2 linked regions of the Homo sapiens genome follow. The protein of the gene in region 1 purifies or fractionates together with the protein of each later gene. This does not show direct contact. Each region holds a gene or a part of one and is shown on either strand. Other genes may lie near its edges.

Evidence for each region. Proteins that work in one complex are often made in the same cells at the same time.
Region 2: the proteins of TRIOBP (region 1) and RASSF8 purify together in Homo sapiens (co-immunoprecipitation; one large-scale study listed by IntAct). This does not show direct contact.

Annotation. Positions count from the first base shown.
Region 1 is NC_000022.11:37,724,509-37,728,162, reverse strand, and holds part of TRIOBP (TRIO and F-actin-binding protein), read right to left. Parts: coding exon 1,660-3,654; intron 1-1,659.
Region 2 is NC_000012.12:26,063,156-26,066,809, reverse strand, and holds part of RASSF8 (ras association domain-containing protein 8), read right to left. Parts: intron 2,313-3,654; coding exon 1,423-2,312; intron 1-1,422.

The DNA.
Region 1 (3,654 bases):
CCCAGCCAAGACTGATAAGGTTTCTCATGCAGATTCAAATCCAGGAGAAAACTTTCCCAAGGAGCAGCAAAGAGGAATTTTAGATACAAAATATTCCATACCCTTTAGGGTGATGAAAATGTTCTAAAGTTAGATTGTGGCAATGGTTGGACAACTTGGTAAATAAACTAAAAATTCGTTGAATTATATACATGGAAAGTTTTGAGACTTCCAGACTGCTTTTTGTTGCTGTTGTTCTCTTGACCCTAACTAATGGAATTCTAGCTCTGATTCTTGAAAACTCGAGGGCTGGAACTTCTGGGGAGAGAAACCTCAGCCTGATCAGGAGGAAATGCTCCCCTTCCAGGGGGCCAGTGCTGCTGACCAAGGAGACTCAAAAGACACCTGGACTTCAGGTGTCCCAGGATGTTTGACTGCTAAAAATCCATAATTCTGTGAGCTTTCTTTCTTAAAATAGGTAGCTCTGGCCATACATTTTTATTTTATTTTTATTTTTAGATGGAGTCTCACTCTGTCACCCAGGTTGGAGTGCAGTGGTACGATCTCGGCTCACTGCAAGCTCCGCCTCCCAGGTTCAAGCAATTCTCCTGCCTCAGCCTCCCGAGTTGCTGGGACTACAGGCGCCCGCCACCATGCCCAGCTAATTTTTTGTATTTTTAGTAGAGATGGGGTTTCACCGTGTTAGCCAGGCTGCTGTCGATCTCCTGACCTTGTGATCCGCCCGCCTCGGCCTCCCCAAGTGCTGGGATTACAGGCATGAGCCACCGTGCCCGGCCCTGGCCATACATTTTAAATTGACATAACTGTTTTCTGAAATGCATAGGGACCCATGAGTTTTCTTTGCCAAGGCAGGAAAAAATCATGGGTACTTTCTTCTTCTCCCTCATGCACGGAAGAAAAAAAAAAAAAACCCATGAGTCTGGATCAAAGGGTTTGAGAGTTCACTCTCATTTTGGCCGGGCACGGTGGCTCACTCCTGTAATCCTAGCACTTTGCGAGGCCGAGGCGGGTGGATCACTTGAGGTCAGGAGTTCGAGACCAGCCTGGCCAATATGGCGAAACCCCGTCTCTAGTAAAAATACAAAAAAATTAGCCGGGTGTGGTGGCACGTGCCTGTAATCCCAGCTACTCGGGAGGCTGAGGCAGGAGAATCGCTTGAACCCAGGAGGTGGAGGTTGCAGTGAGCCGAGATTGCACCATTGCGCTCCGGCCTGGGCAACAAGAGCAAAACTCCACCTCAAAAAAAAAAACAAAAAATAAAAAATAAAAAGACAGTTCACCCTTATTTGAATGAATGTGCTCATGTTCCCCTCCCTTACAGATGAGGAAACTGAGGCTCAGGTAGGTTAACTCACTATATCAGGTCATACGAGTTGACATGTGGCTTTGACCCAGGATTTGGACTCAGCCCTCCTGACTGCAGTCTTTGCTGTTAACCACTGGGCTGTGCATGACATCACTTAACCACACACACACACAAAACAGAAAACTCCCAATATGCAGAAACAGAGAAATGGAGCGATTTGCCCAAGGTCACACAGCCGGTAAATGGCAAGCCAGGGGGATTTGAACACTTTCTTTTGGCACCCTAACCCTTCACCTGTCCTGCTGCCGAGCCTCCTCCCCAGCCCACCTGGCTGACCCCACCCCCGGGCTCACCTGCGCTCTTGCCCGAAGAGGCGCTCCACCTCTGCACGGCCAGGGCTGTGGGTGCGGCCCCCGCTGCTGCACTGCGCCTGGGGCCCTGGCTGTCTCTGGGCCAGCCTCCTGGGTGGGGGCAGGTCGGCCAGCACAGTGTACTCCTCCCGCTCCAAGTTGTGCCTGGTCTCCCCGGGAGGCGCTGAGCCCCGGGAGCCCCCAGAGCTGCCCGGTGAAGGTGAGGGTGCCAGGAACGCTAGGTCACTGGGTGGGTGGCGGGGTGGGGAGGAGGCTCGGGGTGCATCCCGGTGCCCGATGCACACTTGGGGGATCAGCACTGGGGAGCCATGCAGAGAGTCAGTGGAGGGGGCCAGGCTCTCCATACTAGTTCCAGGGGGATCCTGGAAGAAGAGGGATGGCTCAGGAGCCTGGCGTGGTGGGGATGAGAAGGAGGGTGCATCCCGGTGCCCAATGCACACAGGGGTGGGGATGTGGGGGCACTCGTGCAGAGAGTCCATGGAAGGGACAAGGCTCTCTGTGCTGGCCCTGGGGAGGTCCTGGAATAAGAGGGAAGGCTCTGGGGCCTGGCGTGGTGGGGAGGAGGCCCGGGGTGCATCTCGGTACCCAATACACACAGGTGCAGGGAGCTGAAGGGGCTCGTGTTGGGGGGACTGACACTGATGCTCGGCATCTGATGTGTCTGGGAGGAAGGGGAAGGGGTCAAATTGGGTGTGGCGGGGGGGCGAGGACGCCCGGGGGGCATCTCGGTGTCCAATGCACACAGCAGGTGGTATATAGGGAGGCTCGTGGTGGGGCGGTTCACTCTCAGGGGCGCGGGGCTCTGGGAAGAAGGGGAAGGGGTCGTGCTGCAAATAGCGAGGGGGCGAAGAGGCTCGAGGGGCATCCCGGTGCCCAATGCACACAGCACATGGAGGCTGGGAGGGCTCAGGAGAGGTCAGGGGAGCCCCATAGGCAGCGGGGTACACAGGTGAGGAAGTTCGGGAGGTGCTCTGGTGGCCTGGGTTATGGGAGGAAGAGGTGGCCCGGGATGGCAAGTTGTACTGGGTGGGGCCAAAGGAGGACTGGGGTGGGTCATGCTGGGCTGGCCTGCTGGGAGAGGATGTCTGAGGCCTGTCACCTTGGGTTGGCCGGAGGGCGATGGATGCCCAGGGAACCTCGCTTTGCTTGGAGCGAGATGGGGAAGAGGTTCGGGGACCATCACTCTGAGTTGGCCGGAGGGGAAACGAGGCCCAGGGGATGTCTTTGTTAGTACGATGGGGAGATGAATTCCTGGGATTGTTCCATTGAGTGGAGCGGTGGGGAGATGATGGTCTCAGATTCTCCTTTTGGGTGCAGCATTGAGATGAGGAGGTTCCAGGGTTGTCTCGTTGAAAGGAAAAGGACTGTGTGCGGTCCCGCTGTGTACAAGTGGGTCTGAGGTTATCTCGTTTGGTACAAGAGGTTTTAGGGTTGTCTTGTTGGGTAGAAGATGATCTGGGGATGTTCTGTTGAATACAAGTTCTGGGGTTGTCCTGTTGGGTGGCTCTGATGGGAGAGGAGGCTCTGAGATTGTCCCGCTGGGCACAGGATGTTCTGGGGTTGTCTCGTGTGGCTCTATTGGGAGAGGAGGTCCTGGGATTGTCCTGTCGGGTACAGGATGTTCTGAGGTTCTCTTGTTGGATGGTTCTGTTAGGAGAGGAGGCTCTGGGATTGTCCCGCTGGGCACAGGATGTTCTGGGGTTGTCTCGCTGGATGGTTCTGTTGCGAGAGGAGGCTCTGGGATTGTCCCGTCGGGCACAGGATGTTCTGGGGTTCTCTTGTTGGGTGGTTCTGTTAGGAGAGGAGGCTCTGGGATCGTCCCGTTGGGCACAGGATGTTCTGGGGTTCTCTTGTTGGATGGTTCTGCTGGGAGAGGAGGCTCTGGGATTGTCCCGTAGGGCACAGGATGTTCTGGGGTTCTCTTGTTGGATGGTTCTGTTAGGAGAGGAGGCTCTGGGATCGTCCCGTCGGGCACAG
Region 2 (3,654 bases), on another chromosome or scaffold:
CTGGCTCTACCCAGGCTGGGTGGGTCCCAAGGATTTGGTAGGGGTTGGGAAGAGATTAGAAGTGAATGGTTGTTTTCTCCACTTATTTGAGTGTAGGGGGTACTTGGGGATATATCAATATTTGATTATCAGACACTTTTCAGTGGGTAGAGGGATTTGCTAGTAATGACTGTGATAAGTTAGTGTTTTCTGTGATATCAAAAGCAACACAACTTCCACTTGTACCTTTTTTTAAATGTCAAAATGAATCCCAATAGTAAAATACTGACAAATTAGAGGCTGACAAGCTTCTACTGCATGAGAAATTCTTGATTTTCAAAATTTGGGTGGTAGTTTTATCTCTTACTACAGATAATGACGGAGAAAGGAGATCACATCAGTTCTTCCTAAAACCTCAGCTTTCTCTGATTGTGGAACTAACTGTTGATGTTCTAAAGCAGCTCTTCTCAAACCTCACTGTACACAGGTATTACTTGGGCATCCTGTTTCAATGTAGATTCTGAATTTCTTACAAGTAGTACCCTGGAGCTGCCTGGCATGGACTACACTTTGAATCGTAAGCTCTAAACCAGCACAGTCCAACAGAACCTCCTTCAATGGTGGAAATGTTCTGTGTCTGCACGGCCCGTACAGCAGCTACTGGGCACTTGAAATGTGACCATGTGTGACTAAAAACAGAATTTTAAATTATTTAATAATTTAACTGCCTTATTATTTAATCTTAATTTAAATTTAAGTAGCCATATTGTAATCAATTGTGTCTCTTTCTCGTCCCATCTGATACAGACTGTTTGATACATCTTTGCAACTTCCGCAACATAATCACAGGGTCTTTTCAAGAATGGGTATCCAAGAAATGTAAGTTGAGTGATTAGGGTTTAAGTGGCAAAATAGAACTTCTCGTATGTGAACTAGAAAGGGGGAAAATCAGACAGAAATCTTTGTGCCTCTCTCAGGAAAGCAAAGGAGGGTACTGTGGAGAGGGGAGAAGGGACGGGGGCTGTTTATGTGTCAGGAAAGAAGCTGGGATTGGCTGGCAACAATGGAGAAGTGACAGATAAGCAGTCAGCTAGCCACAACAATCCCTGGCCAACCAATCCATGGACAGCTCTTTCAGCTCTAGTTTCCCTATCTCTGAAAGGAGAAGGTGAGATTCACTATCTCATCATTAGTGTCCATTCCATCCCATTATCTAACGCTACAACTGTCACAGTAAGACAAGGCTCTTCCATGGAGAAGGATCCGCAAGGCTACTGCTCCCATCTAAGCTGTCGTAAGTCACAAGAGTTCGACAAAAGTTTTAAACAAGGCTGGGTTTCTAATTCTTTGAATATAAGGAAAAATTGACAATGATGAAAAGGAGATTCCAAGAAGATACTATTTTACATGGGCCAAACATTCTATTTATCAAAGTGTCCCTACCTGTAAGCGTTTGGTGGCTTGTCCAAGAGATCTTTCCACAGCTTTGATGCCATTTTCCAACCTCAGACTCTGCTGGCCTTGAATGTCAATCTCCCCTTTGACCTTACCGATCTTTCCTTTAACCTCTTCCTCATTGACCTGTGCCTCTTGAACTTCCCGTTGCAATTTTTCTGCTTCAAGACCACTTTCCATAGTCCGGATCTGTGCCAAATAGTCCTTTAATTTGTTTTCACATTCTGTTATTTTCTGTCTTATTTCTTGAAGTTGATCCTTCAGCTGTTTTTCATTTTCCTGTTCAATCTGTAATTCATTTTCCCAGAATTCTTCCTCCTCAATTTCTACATCGTTTCTTTTGATCTTTTGCTCTAGACGGACAATTTCCTCTTCAAGGTTGGAATTATACTTTTGCTCCCAAAATCTTATTTCTATTTCATTAGATTCCAGCTGTTTCTCAATGGATTGAAGCTTCTCTGTCTGCAGACGGATTAGCTTCTTCAACTCATCTGCTGTTGTTTTGCAGTTATTCAGCACCTTTTGCTTAAACTCAGTTTCTTTACCTTTTCCAAAAATGTCCATTAATCCTTTGGCACCTCCTGTAAATGTCAGTGATTTCCTTTTCGGTTCCCTCCTTTTGATTGATTTGTCAATCTGAGGCCTCAGTTTAGCTAAGGGGGGCAGACTCTGCCTGTATAAAGTTCTTTCAGGAATTCGAGCCACACTGTCTGAAGTGGGTCGCTCACTGAGAGACGGCCCAGTTCGTCGTAGAATGAGCTGCACATCACTAGCATACTGCCCCCATTTGTTTAAGGATATGATAGGATTTTCATGAGGTGCTAAGTGTCTTTCAGTATCTCTCCATTTCTCTATAAGGGTGTACCTTCCAGTTCGACCTATGTAAAAAAGGTAAGAATAACTTGTCAAAATGGGATATGTAATAGTTAAAAAATGGAGTAAGAATGCCATTTGATGATTGTGTATTTTCGATTAGCATCAGAGGGTCAAGTTTGAGTCTAGTTCAGGTTCCTTTAAAACCTTTACTTGAAGATACCAAACCCCTCACGACATGTAACAACATAAAATCAGAAGATGTGTATTGCACATACTCTTTAGGCTTGCTTAGAAATTCAACTTTATACTTTAAACCTTGGTGGGACTCTTATACTCTTGCCAAATACCTGGCTGCCTAGAACTTCTCATTTGGGGCAAGACTGAACAAAGTTTATTTTCTAGCTGAAACAAAGGACAACAGAATCGCCATGTGAAACATGAGGGGCTGGTCCAGGAACTAGGTGGAACTTCAAAACTCAAATACATTTCCACTGTGGAAATCCCTCGGCTTTTTTCCACATCAGAACTTGGGAGGGCTGGAGGCCCCACTTCTCCTCCTGAAAGGAGACATGGGGACCAGTGGAGAACTGTGACTCAGCCACAGGAGGTGCCCAGGTCTCCTCTCCATCTCCACCTGAGTGCTCCACCAACCCATCGCTCACACAGCTGACATCTTCCTGGACACCCATGACAAACAAAAAACCAGCTCAATGAAAAAAACTCTTCAAAACAAATTCATATAAAAAGAGGGGCCTGAAGAGAAGACTTGTTCAGTTTTGGTAATATGATAGTATCAGAGATTCTTCTTCTAAAAAAAAAAAAAAAACTCAAAGCAAAATATTGTTAAAAACAAACCAGCAGGCTGGGTGCAGTGGCTCACACCTGTAATCCCAGTATTTTGGGAGGCAAAGGTGGGCAGACTTCTTGAGCCCAGGAGTTTGAGACCAGCCTGGGCAACATGGCAGAACCCTGTCTCTACAAATAAAATATGAAAAAGTTAGCCGGGAATGGTGCTGTGCACCGTAGTCCTAGCTACTTGAGAGGCTGAAATAGGAGAATCGCCTGATCCTGGGAGATCAAGGCTGCAGTGAGCTGTATTGTGTCACTGCACTCCAGCCTGGGTGACAGAGTAAGACTCTGTCTCAAAAAAAAAACAAAACAAACAAACACCAGAATACAATCACATATACATTGAAAAATATACTGAATCTAATCATTATGAAAGTAAGATAAAGTTTCAGAAGAATATGATTGTAATGCCATAAGCTTGAACATGCTTTTTAAATATTTTCATTTGAGTGGGTCAGATAGATTATTTAAATTTTGTGAAAAGTGTACATAAATAATTACAAAGAAAAAAAACCAACGCTGCCATCCAGCAATTATACTTGTATAAACAGCTAT